Regions from separate parts of the Homo sapiens genome. Here regions 2 and 3 are each linked to region 1. Evidence: fine-mapped expression QTL. A gene starts in region 1. Each other region holds a variant in brackets. All regions are shown on one strand. Distances are from middle to middle.

Region 1 (4,225 bases):
GTGTCAGCCAGAGCAGGGACAGTTCCATCCATTCCAACATTTAATGAGAGTCTGCCCTATAATGAAGCCATACAGATGAATAAGACACTGCTCTAGCCTTGAACAGTTCGGTCTAGGATAAATAATAATGATACAATGTAACATATTAGGCTAGAACATAATATGTTATAAATGCTGCAAAGGACTACATCAGATAATGGGGAGCACAGCTAACCAATGGAGAAAATAAGAAGAGAAAGGGAGGATCTCAAGGCAGACAAGGGGAAATAGATAAGCAAAGACTTTGACAGATATGAAAACTCAGTAGCAACCTTTTTTTCCGACGTGTATACAGCTAGAACCATTATGAGTCACTTTGTAAGTCAGGAATTCCCAGCCCATGTCTCCACTTCCATAACTCAGCAATCTTTCAGTGTTCATGAGGGAGAGAAGGGGAAAAGGGTAGTGCTAGGAATAGACAGGGACAGGGTTGGAAAGTCCACATTAAATCACAGGCGAGGACCCTGAGCCATTCAGACAAGTTCCTCTGGGTGAGGAATTCAAAGGTAAGAAAAAATATCAGACCACCAAGAGACCCACAGAGATCACCTGGTCTGAATCCCTTCCTCCACATTCCAAGATAGAAAGAAAAATGGAAGAGAAGGCTTTCAGGAAAAAGGAAGAAAAAGAGGAATGCGTTGACGAGGGTACCAAAAGCTGATAAGTCAAGCAATAATCACAGGCTGATCCACAGTGAGGTACACGCAGGGTTTTGCTTCAGGTAACACCTGAAGCCAAGTTTTGCTTATCACATGCCTCCCCTGCCTCCAGTCCCCAAAGCCAACCTCCACCCCTACCCCATGCAGGTCTTACCTGACCAATGCCATGCCATAGAGCAGTCTAAGTTCATCAGTGCCCAAGCCACCAGTTACATCCAAGAGCTTACAGCGTATCAGGTCAGCAGTAGAAGCCACTGCCAGAGGGAGTTCGTTGCCTGACCTAAAGGGTCACAGTCCAGCACCATCATAAAGAGCCCTTACACTGGTCCACCCTCCACCTCAGAACCTAGGTTGTTGCAGGCTACACCCATCATATTCTGGTTCAAGAGAGCATGAACAGACACAAAACAAGAAGGTGGGAGGAGACACGGTAATGTCTGTGGGATCCAACAGTATACAGGGCATGAGGAGCTGACTAGGCCGTATACAGGACACCTAACTGGTAGACTGTCCATCAACAGTTGTGTGGACACACCCCTTTCTTTCACCCCCAAATCAACTCATTGAGCTAGAGGAGCCCCTTATCCCTTGTAAGTCGGCTCCCAACTCAATCTTACCAACTGGACTGAGGCGCCCCACTCAAACACTGTCTTGCAGGCAAGACTTCCTCCCCATTGGAATCGGAAATCTACCCTAGGGTACTAATCTACTCCTTAAGCCCTGGCTCAGGCCTCACTAGTCCCTCCGGCATCCTCTCCAAGTTGGGAGAAAGTCACTTTTTGGAGGTAATGGGTAAACCTCACAGATATAACAAGAGAATTGTTGAGGCACAACCCCTTACTTTCCATTCCGCTAACGGGATTAGCGCAAGAGATGGCTGCCGCGTTCCCCCAGGCATTTGGGAGAGGGACAACTTTAGGCGACTTAGGGGAAGACTGGAGAACAGGGCCTTATAGAAACTCGACAAAGGAAGAGGTGCAGCGCCACCAGCACGCAGGCAAAAGGGCCGAACCCGCCACCTTACCTGCTCCTCCACACCGTGATGCGGTTAAGCGCGTACCGCTGCAACTTATGGTCGTCACAGAACAGATAAACCGTCACCTGGTCCCACTCGGCCCTGCTGAGCCAGGCGACCACGATGCCGTGGGCCGAGAGTGGCAACGACCCTTTCCCTTTAACGCACTTTCCGTACCACGCACTCCACACGAGATCCATCCCCTGGGAACCTAGACCTGGCCCGGCCCCGGATTCCCACGACATACTGAGCTCAACAACAGGCTCTGTGCCGCGCCGCTCCGCACAGCCTTCAGCTCAGCGTGCTACCCTCACTCCGAACCGCCACCGCACCAGCAGCCAATAGGAGAGCGTGACCCCATACGCAAGCCCGCCTTCCAGCGTCAGCATGGCCAATCGGAACGTCAGAATTGGGCGCCGACCTAATGACATGCGGGGTTAAAAACTCACCGGCCGGAAGTGTTCTTTTCACAAAGCAAACCCTCCAGGGGCAAGAGTTCAGCCTCTAGGTTCCGCCAATTTCCTGGTTGCTAACCGGCTTCTGTACCAGACCGGAAGCGGTATGTCTTCACTGCAAGAGGAATTTTATTTTGCTCCCCTCGGCGGGTGGCAGCTTGATTGTAGTCATCCAGTGAACTGAAAATGCGATTTTAAGTATATTTTTATTGCCGTGAATCAGGACCTAACCTAGTAAAACACTGGACACTGAAGCAGGGCTACAGAGGAAATATCTCATATCGAAACAGTTACAGTTGGGTTGAAAAAATCTGCTTTTGTGGCAGGTAACCAGGGGCCCTGCCTTTTAAATTAGTACCAGCCTGGCCAGGCGTGGTGGCTCACGCCTGTAATCCCAGCACATTGGGAGGCCCAGGCGGGCGGATCACTTGAGGTCAGGAGTTCCAGACCAGCCTGGCCAAAATGGTGAAACCCGGTCTCTAGTAAAAATACAAAAATTAGCTAAGCATGGTTGCACATGCCTGTAATCCCAGTTACTCAGGAGGCTGAGGCACAAGAATCGCTTGAATCCGGGAGGCGGAGGCTGCAACAAGCCAAGATCGCACCAGTGCACTCCACCCTGGGTGACAGATCGAGACTCTGTCTCAAAAGTAAATTAAATAAATACATACATAAATAAATAAATAAATACCAGCCTAGAGACCTGAGTTTTACTCTAAATTTTGCCACTAACTATGTGGACTTAGACTAGTCTCAGTTTTCCCATCTGTACAGTGAGAGTTGTAGACTGGTCTCTAGGTTCTCTGTCATAGCAGAAAATTGTAGAATTTTACTCTGCCAACATTCCACTGCTATGTTGGTTTCAACATCCACCAAGGTATACTTAGTTTTTCTGCAAAATTCCTTGGTATTTTGGAGTTCTGGGAGAAAAGCGGTATTATGAAGTTCCTCCGATTTTACGAGTTGACTGAAATATGTTTAGGACTATGTCCCAATCCTTCTTGCAGAAGTTATTTTCCAATGTAACACTTGAGAGAGAGAGAGAGAGAACTGTTGCTAACGATCTTAACAGCATTGCTGTGAGTGGCACTTTTACGCTTCACAGCAACAAATCCCAATTCATCCTCTATATGTGCTTCTTTCTCCAGCCAACTTTTCCTAAGATATAGTCTGCCTATAGTTATTTTATTTTTCTTTTTTTCTTTTTCTTTTTTTTTTTGACATGGCGTCTGGCCCAGTCGCCCAGGCTGGAGTGCAGTGGCACAATTCTCGGCTCACTGCAACCTCTACCTCCAGGGTTCAAGTGATTCTCTTGCCTCAGCCTTCCAAGTAGCTGGGATTACAGGCGCCTGCCACTATGCTTGGCTAATTTTTGTATTGTTAGTAGAGACAGGGTTTCACCATGTTGGCCAGGCTGGTCTGGAACTCCTGACCTCAAGTGATCCACCAGCCCAGGCCTCCCAAAGTGCTAGGATTACAGGCATGAGCCACCGTGCCCGGCCTGCCTATGGTTCTTGACTGACAGTTACTCTGTCCCAAGTAGCCATGCCAACCAGTTGGCCAGGTGTCTGCCTGAAACCAGATACCCTTTTTCCTTCAGGATCATGACAGTGTGCTGGCAAAGAAGTCTGGGGAGTGGTTTCTATGACTCCTCAAGATACAGGCCAGTCAGAGGAGCTGCCAGATCTGCGGCAATCATTCACACACATTTTGGGGTTTATAGGCTAAAAATTTTGCATAGTCCTTTTCAGGCAAAGACCCCTATTTATCCCCATTCCATCCACATAAAGCTGAAGTTCTCTCTATTCCGTGTGTTCTAAGAAAACATGACCAAAGCATGTAACAAGAGCATTATGTCTAATATGTGGCAAATGGGGCCTGAGACCTATTGAGAATTAGGAATTAGTGGACGAAGTGTGTCAAATAGTGGTAATTTTGAAGAAGCACTGCGTTAGTTTCCTGTTGTTGCTATAGCAAATTACCACAAACTTGGTGGTTTAAAACAACAGACATTTATTTTCTCGTAGTTCTGGAGGCCAAAAGTTTGATAACAGTAT
Region 2 (4,244 bases), 920 kb before region 1:
TCCCTCCCCCCACCCCACAACAGTCCTCAGAGTGTGATGTTCCCCTTCCTGTGTCCATGTGTTCTCATTGTTCAATTCCCACATGAGTGAGAATATGCAGTGTTTGTTTTTTTGTTCTTGAGATAGTTTACTGGGAATGATGATTTCCAATTTCATCCATGTCCCTACAAAGGACATGAACTCATCATTTTATATGGCTGCATAGTATTCCATGGTGTATATGTGCCACATTTTCTTAATCCAGTCTATCATTGTTGGACATTTGGCTTGGTTCCAAGTCTTTGCTATTGTGAATAATGCCACAATAAAAATACATGTGCATGTGTCTTTATAGCAGCATGATTCATAGTCCTTTGGGTATATACCCAGTAATGGGATGGCTGGGTCAAATGGTATTTCTAGTTCTAGATCCCTGAGGAATCACCACACTGACTTCCACAATGGTTGAACTAGTTTACAGTCCCACCAACAGTGTAAAAGTGTTCCTATTTCTCCACATCCTCTCCAGCACCTGTTGTTTCCTGACTTTTTAATGATTGCCATTCTAACTGGTATGAGATGGTATCTCAATTTGGTTTTGATTTGCATTTCTCTGATGGCCAGTGATGGTAAGAATTTTTTCATGTGTTTTTTGGCTGCATAAATGTCTTCTTTTGAGAAGTGTCTGTTCATGTCCTTCGCCCACTTTTTGATGGGGTTGTTTGTTTTTTTCTTGTAAATTTGTTTGAGTTCATTGTAGATTCTAGATATTAGCCCTTTGTCAGATGAGTAGGTTGTGAAAATTTTCTCCCATTTTATAGGTTGCCTGTTCACTCCGATGGTAGTTTCTTTTGCTGTGCAGAAGCTCTTTAGTTTAATTAGATCCCATTTGTCAATTTTGGCTTTTGTTGCCATTGCTTTTGGTGTTTTAGACATGAAGTCCTTGCCCAAGCCTATGTCCTGAATGGTATTGCCTAGGTTTTCTTCTAGGGATTTTATGGTTTTAGGTCTAACATTTAAGTCTTTAATCCATCTTGAATTGATTTTTGTATAAGGTGTAAGGAAGGGATCCAGTTTCAGCTTACTACATCTGGCTAGCCAGTTTTCCCGGCACCATTTATTAAATAGGGAATCCTTTCCCCATCGCTTGTTTTTCTCAGGTTTGTCAAAGATCAGATAGTTGTAGATATGTGGCATTATTTCTGAGGGCTCTGTTCTGTTCCTCTGATCTGTTCTGATCAGATTCTCTGATCTATATCTCTGTTTTGGTAACAGTACCATGCTGTTTTGGTTACTGTAGCCTTGTAGTATAGTTTGAAGTCAGGTAGTGTGATGCCTCCAGCTTTGTTCTTTTGGCTTAGGATTGACTTGGTGATGCGGGCTCTTTTTTGGTTCCATATGAACTTTAAAGTAGTTTTTTTCCAATTCTGTGAAGAAAGTCATTGGTAGCTTGATGGGGATGGCATTGAATCTGTAAATTACCTTGGGCAGTATGGCCATTTTCACGATATTGATTCTTCCTACCCATGAGCATGGAATGTTCTTCCATTTGTTTGTATCCTCTTTTATTTCATTGAGCAGTGGTTTGTAGTTCTCCTTGAAGAGGTCTTTCACATCCCTTGTAAGTTGGATTCCTGGGTATTTTATTCTCTTTGAAGCAATTGTGAATGGGAGTTCACTCATGATTTGGCTCTCTGTTTGTCTGTTGTTGGTATATAAGAATGCTTGTGATTTTTGCACATTGGTTTTGTATCCTGAGACTTTGCTGAAGTTGCTTATCACCTTAAGGAGATTTTGGGCTGAGACAATGGGGTTTTCTAGATATACAATCATGTTGTCTGCAAACAGGGACAATTTGACTTCCTCTTTTCCTAATTGAATACCCTTTATTTCCTTCTCCTGCCTGGTTGCCCTGGCCAGAACTTCCAACACTATGTTGAATAGGAGTGGTGAGAGAGAGCATCCCTGTGTTGTGCCAGTTTTCAAAGGGAATGCTTCCAGTTTTTGCTCATTCAGTATGATATTGTCTGTGGGTTTGTCATAGATAGCTCTTATTATTTTGAGATACGTCCCATCAATACCTAATTTATTGAGAGTTTTTAGCATGAAGTGTTGTTGAATTTTTTCAAAGGCCTTTTCTTCATCTATTGAGATAATCATGTGTTTTTTTGTCTTTGGTTCTGTTTATATGCTGGATTACATTTATTGATTTGCATATATTGAACCAGCCTTGCATCCCAGGGATGAAACACATTCAAAAGCTAGCAGAAGGCAAGAAATAACTAAAATCAGAGCAGAACTGAAGGAAATACAGACACAAAAAACCCTTCAAAAAATTAATGAATCC[A/G]GGAGCTGGTTTTTTGAAAGGATCAACAAAATTGATAGACCGCTAGCAAGACTAATAAAGAAAAAAAGAGAGAAGAATCAAATAGATGTAATAAAAAATGATAAAGGGGATATCAACACCAATCCCACAGAAATACAAACTACCATCAGAGAATACTACAAACACCTCTACGCAAATAAACTAGAAAATCTAGAAGAAATGGATAAATTCCTCCACACATACACTCTCCCAAGACTAAACCAGGAAGAATTTGAATTTCTGAATAGACCAATAACAGGATCTGAAATTGTGGCAATAATCAATACCTTACCAACCAAAAAGAGTGCAGGATGAGATGGATTCACAGCCGAATTCTACCAGAGGTACAAGGAGGAACTGGTACCATTCCTTCTGAAACTATTCCAATCAATAGAAAAAGAGGGAGTCCTCCCTAACTGATTTTACGAGGCCAGCATCATCCTGATACCAAAGGCGGGCAGAGACACAACCAAAAAAGAGAATTTTAGACCAATATCCTTGATGAACATTGTTGCAAAAATCCTCATAAAATACTGGCAAACCAAATTCAGCAGCACATCAAAAACTTTATCCACCATGATCAAATTTCCTTCTTAATTTCTTTATTGACCCTTCAGTTGTTCAGGAGCATATTGTTTAATTTACATGTGTTTGTGTATTTTCTGAGGTTTCTCTTGTTATTGATTTCTAATTTTATTCCATTGTGGTCAGAAAAGATATTTGATAGGATTTTTATTTAAAACATTGTTCAGACTTGTTTGTGGCCTAATATATGGTCTATTCTGAAGAATGTTCCATGTGCTGCTGAAAATAATGTGTATTCTGCAGCAGTTGAGTGAAATGTTTTGTAAATGTCAGTTAAGCCTATTATATCTAATGTGTAGTTTAACTCCGCTGTTTCTTTGTTACTTTTCTGTCTGGATGAAGTCTGCTTTTATGTATTGATGATCTGTCAATTACGGAGAGTGAGGTATTAAAGGTCCCTACTATTATTGTATTGTAGTCTATCTCTCTTTAGGTCTATTAATCTTTGCTTATGTACTTGGGAACTCTGATATTGGATGCATAGATATTTATAATATTTATGTTCTTGCTGAATTGACCCCTTTATCATTATATAGTGACTTGTTTTTTTATACAGTGTTTGATTTGTAATATATTTTATCTGATATGAATATAGCTGCTACTGCTCTTTTATTGGTTTATTTTTTCTTTTTTTTTTTTTTTTTTTCTTGGAGATGGAGTTTCGCTCTTGTCACCCAGGCTGAATCTCAGCTCACTGCAACGTCTGCCTCCCAGGTTCAAGCAATTCTCCTGCATCAGCCACCCAAATAGCTTGGGATTACAGGCGTGTGCTACTGTGCCTGGGCCTTTTTTTTTTTAATTTCTAGTTGTATAAAATATCTTTTCTACTCCTTCACCTTCATTTTATGTGTTTATAGGTGAAGTGGGTTTCATGAAGGCAGGATGTAGTTGGATCTTGTATCTTTGTACACTCAACCACTCTGTGTCTTTTAATTGCAAAATGGAGACCATCACATTCATTGTTACTATTGATAAGAAAGGACTTACTACTACCATTTTGTTGCTTGTATTCTCGTTGTTTTGAGACTCCTCTCTTACTTTCATCCTTTATTTATGTCTTACTTTGCAGTTAAGTGATTATTTCTGGTAGTATGTTTTAAAGTGTTGCTTTTTATTTTTAGTGAATCTGTTATAGAGTTTTGTACTGTGAGTATCATGAAGCTTACAAGAAAAGCACCTTATAAATACAAGTTATTTAAAAGATATGACAACTAATCTTAGATCACACGGAAAAAATAGAAACAAAGGCAAAGAACACACAAAAAATCTACACTTTAACTTCATCCCTTCCACATGTTGATTTTTAATTGTCCTA
Region 3 (4,244 bases), 29 kb after region 1:
TCCCAGCTACTTGGGAGGCTGAGGCAGGAGAATCACTTGAATCCGGAAGGCGGCAGTTTCGGTGAGCTGAGATCGTGCCATTGCACTCCAGCCTGGGCAACAAAAGCGAAAGTCCATCTCTAAATAAATAAATAAATAAATAAATAAATAAATAAATAGAGAAAATAGTAAGATTGATATCCATCTTCCTAGTCTTCAGGAGGATATTCCTCCCTTGCCTGTACACGCCTTTCCCCTACACATACACTCTGAGCTGAAGCATCTTATCCATCTGTCAGAGGCTGGTTCAAGTTGTAGGCTTGAAGGCTGGGATTTGAGTCTTGACCTAGGCGAAAACAAGGACCAGGGCCTGGCCAGGAAAGGATCAAAAGGATACTGTTCACAACAACCCTTCCTATGAGTAGTGGGCATTTTATCCAACAAAACCTGTTCATGTTCACATTTGTTTTGTTTTGTTTTGTTTTGTTTTTTTGAGATGGAGTCTTTCTTTGTCGCCCAGGCTGGAGTGCAGTGACGTGATCTCAATTCACTGCGACCTCCGCCTCCCAGCTTCAAGTGATTCTCCTGCCTCAGCCTCCCAGTAGCTAGGATTACAGGTGTGCACCACCATGTCTGGCTAATTTTTTTTTATTTTTAATAGAGATGGGGTTTCACCATGTTGGCCAGGCTGGTCTTGAACTCCTGACCTCAGGTGATCCGCTCGCCTCGGCCTCCCAAAGTGCTGGAATTACAGGCGTGTGTCACCATGGCTGGCCATGTTCATACTCTTTCTTCTTTTTTAATTTTCTTCTTCTTCTTATACTTTAAGTTCTGGAGTATATGTGCAGAACTTGCAGGTTTGTTACATAGGTATACATGTGCCATGGTGGTTTGCTGCACCCATCAACCTGTCATCTACATTAGGTATCTCTCCTAGTGCTATCCCTCCTCTAGCCCCCTACCCCCTGACAGGCCCCAGTGTGTGATGTTCCCCACCCTGTGTCCATGTGTTCTCATTGTTCAACTCCCACTTATGAGTGAGAACGTGAGGTGTTTGGTTTTATGTTCTTGTGTTAGTTTGGTAAGAATGATGGTTTCCAGCTTCATCCATGTCCCTGCAAAGGACTTGAACTCATCCTTTTTTATGGCTGCATAGTATTCCATGGTGTATGTGTGCCACATTTTCTTTATCTAGTCTATCATTGATGGACATTTGGGTTGGTTCCAAGTCTTTGCTATTGTGAACAGTGCCACAATAAACATACATGTGCATGTGTCTTTATAGTAGAATGATTCATAAACCTCTTGGTATATACTCAGTAATGGGATTGCTGGGTCAAATGGTATTTCTGTTTCTAGATCTTTGAGGAATCGCCACACTGTCTTCCACAATGTTTGAACTAACTTGCACTCCCACCAGCAGTGTAAAAGCATTCCTATTTCTCCACATCCTCTCCAGCATCTGTTGTTTCCTGACATTTTAATGATCCCCTTTCTAACTGGCATAAGATGATATCTCATTGTGATTTTGATTTACATTTCTCTAATGACCAGTGATGATGACCCTTTTTTTTCATGTTTGTTGGCTGTATAAATGTCTTCTTTTGCTGGGTGTGGTGGCTCACGCCTGTAATCCCAGCACTTTGGGAGCCTGAGGTGGGTGGATCACGAGGTCAGGAGTTCAAGAC[C/A]AGCCTGGCCAAGATGCTGAAACCGCGTCTCTACTAAAAATACAAAAATTAGCCAGGCATGGTGGCAGGCACCTCTAATCCCCACTACTTGGGAGGCTGAGGTAGGAGAATCACTTGAACCCTGGGTGGGTGGAGGTTGCAGTGAGCCAAGATTGCACCACTGCATTCCAGCCTGGGTGACAGAGTGACACTCCATCTCAAAAAATAAATAAATAAAATAAAATAAAATAAAAATAAATGTCTTCTTTTGAGAAATGTCTGTTCATATCCTTCGCCCACTTTTTGTTGGGGTTGTTTGTTTTTTTTCTTGTAAATTTGTTTAAGTTCTTTGTAGATTCTGGATATTAGCCTTTGTCAGATGGATAGATTGCAAAAATTTTCTCCCATTCTGTAGGTTGCCTGTTCACTCTGATGATAGTTTCTTTTGCTGTGCAGAAGCTCTTTAGTTTAATTACATCCCATTTGTCAATTTTGGCTTTTGTTGCCATTGCTTTTGATGTTTTAGTCATGAAGTTTTTGTCCATGCCTGTGTCCTGAATGGTATTGCCTTGGATTTCTTCTAGGGTTTTTATGGTTTTAGGTCTTACATTTAAGTCTTTAATCCATCTTGAGTTAATTTTTGTATAAGGTGTAAAGAAGGGGTCCAGTTTCATTTTTCCGTATATGGCTTACCAGTTTTCCCAACACCATTTATTAAATAGGGAATCCTTTTCCTATTGCTTGTTTTTGTCAGGTTTACCAAAGGTCAGATGGTTGTAGATGTGTGGTGTTATTTCTGAGGCCTCTATTCTGTTCCATTGGTCTATATATCTGTTTTGGTACCAGTACCATGTGGTTTTGGTTACTGTAGACTCGTAGTATAGTTTGAAGTCAGGTAGCGTGATGCCTCCAGCTTTGTTCTTCTTGCTTAGGATTGTCTGCTATGTGGGCTCTTTTTTGGTTCCATATGAAATTTAAAGTAGTATTTTTCTAATTGTGTGAAGAAAGTCAATTGTAGCTTGATGGGGATAGCATTGAATCTATAAATTACTTTGGTCATTATGGCCATTTTCACGATATTGATTCCTCCTATCCATGAACATGGAATGTTTTTCCATTTGTTTGTGTCCTTCTTTAATTTGTTGAGCAGTGGTTTGTAGTTCTCCTTGAAGAGGTCCTTCACATCCCTTGTAAGTTGTATTCCTAAGTATTTTATTCTCTTAGTAGCAATTGTGAATGTTGTGAATGGGAGTTCATTCATGATTTGGCTCTCTGTCTATTACTGATGTATAGGTATGTTTGTGATTTTTGCACATTAATTTTGTATCCTGAGACTTTGCTGAATTTGCTTATCAGCTTAAAAATATTTTGGGCTGAGATGATGGGGTTTTCTAAATATACAATCATGTCATCTACAAAACAGAGACAATTTGACTTCCTCTCTTCCTGTTTGAGTACCCTTTATTTCTTTATCTTGCCTGATTGCCCTGGCCAGAACTTCCAATATTAGGTTGAAGAGGAGTGGTGAGAGAGAGCATCCCTGTCTTGTGCCAGTTTTCAAAGGGAATGCTTCCAGTTTTTGCCCATTCAGTATGATGATGGCTGTGGGTTTGTCATAAATAGCTCTTATTATTTTGAGATACATTCCATCAACACCTAGTTTATTGAGAGTTTGTAGCATGAAAAGGTGTTGAATTTTGTCAAAGGCCTTTACTGCATCTTTTGAGATAATCATGTGGTTTTTGTCATTGGTACTGTTTATGTGGTGGATTACAGTTATTGATTTGTGGATGTTGAACCAGCCTTCCATCCTAGGGATGAAGCCGACTTGGTCATGGTGGATAAGCTTTTTGATGTGCTGCTGGATTCGGTTTGCCAGTATTTTATTGAAGATTTTTGCATCGATATTCATCAGGGATATTGGCCTGAAATTTTCTTTTTTTTGTTGTGTCTCTGCCAGGTTTTGGTATAAGCATGATGCTGGCATCATCAAATGAGTTAGGGAGGAGTCCCTCTTTTGCTATTGTTTGGAATAGTTTCAGAAGGAATGATAACAGCTCCTTCTCTCTCTTCTTCTTCATTATTCTGGCTAGCAGTCTATCTATTTTGTTGATCTTTTCACAAAACCAGCTCCTGGATTCATTGATATTTTGAAGGGTTTTTTTTGTGTATCTATATCCTTCAGTTCTGCTCTGATCTTAGTTATTTCTTGTCTTCTGCTAACTTTTGAATTTGTTTGCTCTTGATTCTCTAGTTCTTTTAATTGTGATGTTAGGGTGTCAACTTTAGATCTTTCCTGCTTTCTCTTGTAGGCATTTAGTGCTATAAATTTCCCTCTAAACACTACTTGAGCTGTGTTCCAGAGATTCTGGTACGTTGTATCTTTGGTCTCATTGGTTTCAAAGAATTTATTTATTTCTGCCTTAATTTCATTATTTACCCAGTAGTAATTCAGCAGCAGGTTGTTCAGTTTCCAGTAGTTGTGCGTTTTTGAGTTAGTTTCTTAATCCTGAGTCCTCATTTGATTGCACTGTAATCTGAGAGACAGTTTATTACAATTTCTATTCTTTTGCATTTGCTGAGGAGAGTTTTACTTCC

Which allele goes with the higher level. Positions count from the first base shown, and alleles are read on the strand shown. Sizes are in standard deviations (SD) of each study's normalised expression. Not every link is listed here.
In carriers of allele A in region 2, the expression in tibial nerve of the gene that starts at base 2,030 in region 1 tends to be lower than with G alone (small effect, 0.26 SD a copy in GTEx).

What was found. PIP is the estimated chance that this variant, and not a neighbour inherited with it, causes the effect. A credible set is the group of variants that fine-mapping cannot tell apart.
Region 2: its variant is the best candidate, but not a certain one, in a credible set for the expression of LAS1L in tibial nerve (GTEx, PIP 0.68).
Region 3: its variant is the best candidate, but not a certain one, in a credible set for the expression of LAS1L in whole blood (TOPMed, PIP 0.87).

Annotation. Positions count from the first base shown.
Region 1 is chrX:65,532,758-65,536,982 of GRCh38, forward strand. It overlaps LAS1L (LAS1 like ribosome biogenesis factor), which reads right to left and starts at 2,030. Exons shown (of 14, transcript NM_031206.7): 1 at 1,723-2,030; 2 at 853-978. The coding sequence starts at 1,958. RefSeq lists an enhancer at 2,125-2,304.
Region 2 is chrX:64,616,726-64,620,969 of GRCh38, forward strand. No RefSeq gene overlaps it. Among named protein-coding and RNA genes, the nearest start is that of MTMR8, 220 kb to the left of the region's middle. The variant A/G (reference allele first, on the strand shown) is at 2,327.
Region 3 is chrX:65,561,944-65,566,187 of GRCh38, forward strand. No RefSeq gene overlaps it. Among named protein-coding and RNA genes, the nearest start is that of LAS1L, 29 kb to the left of the region's middle. The variant C/A (reference allele first, on the strand shown) is at 1,668.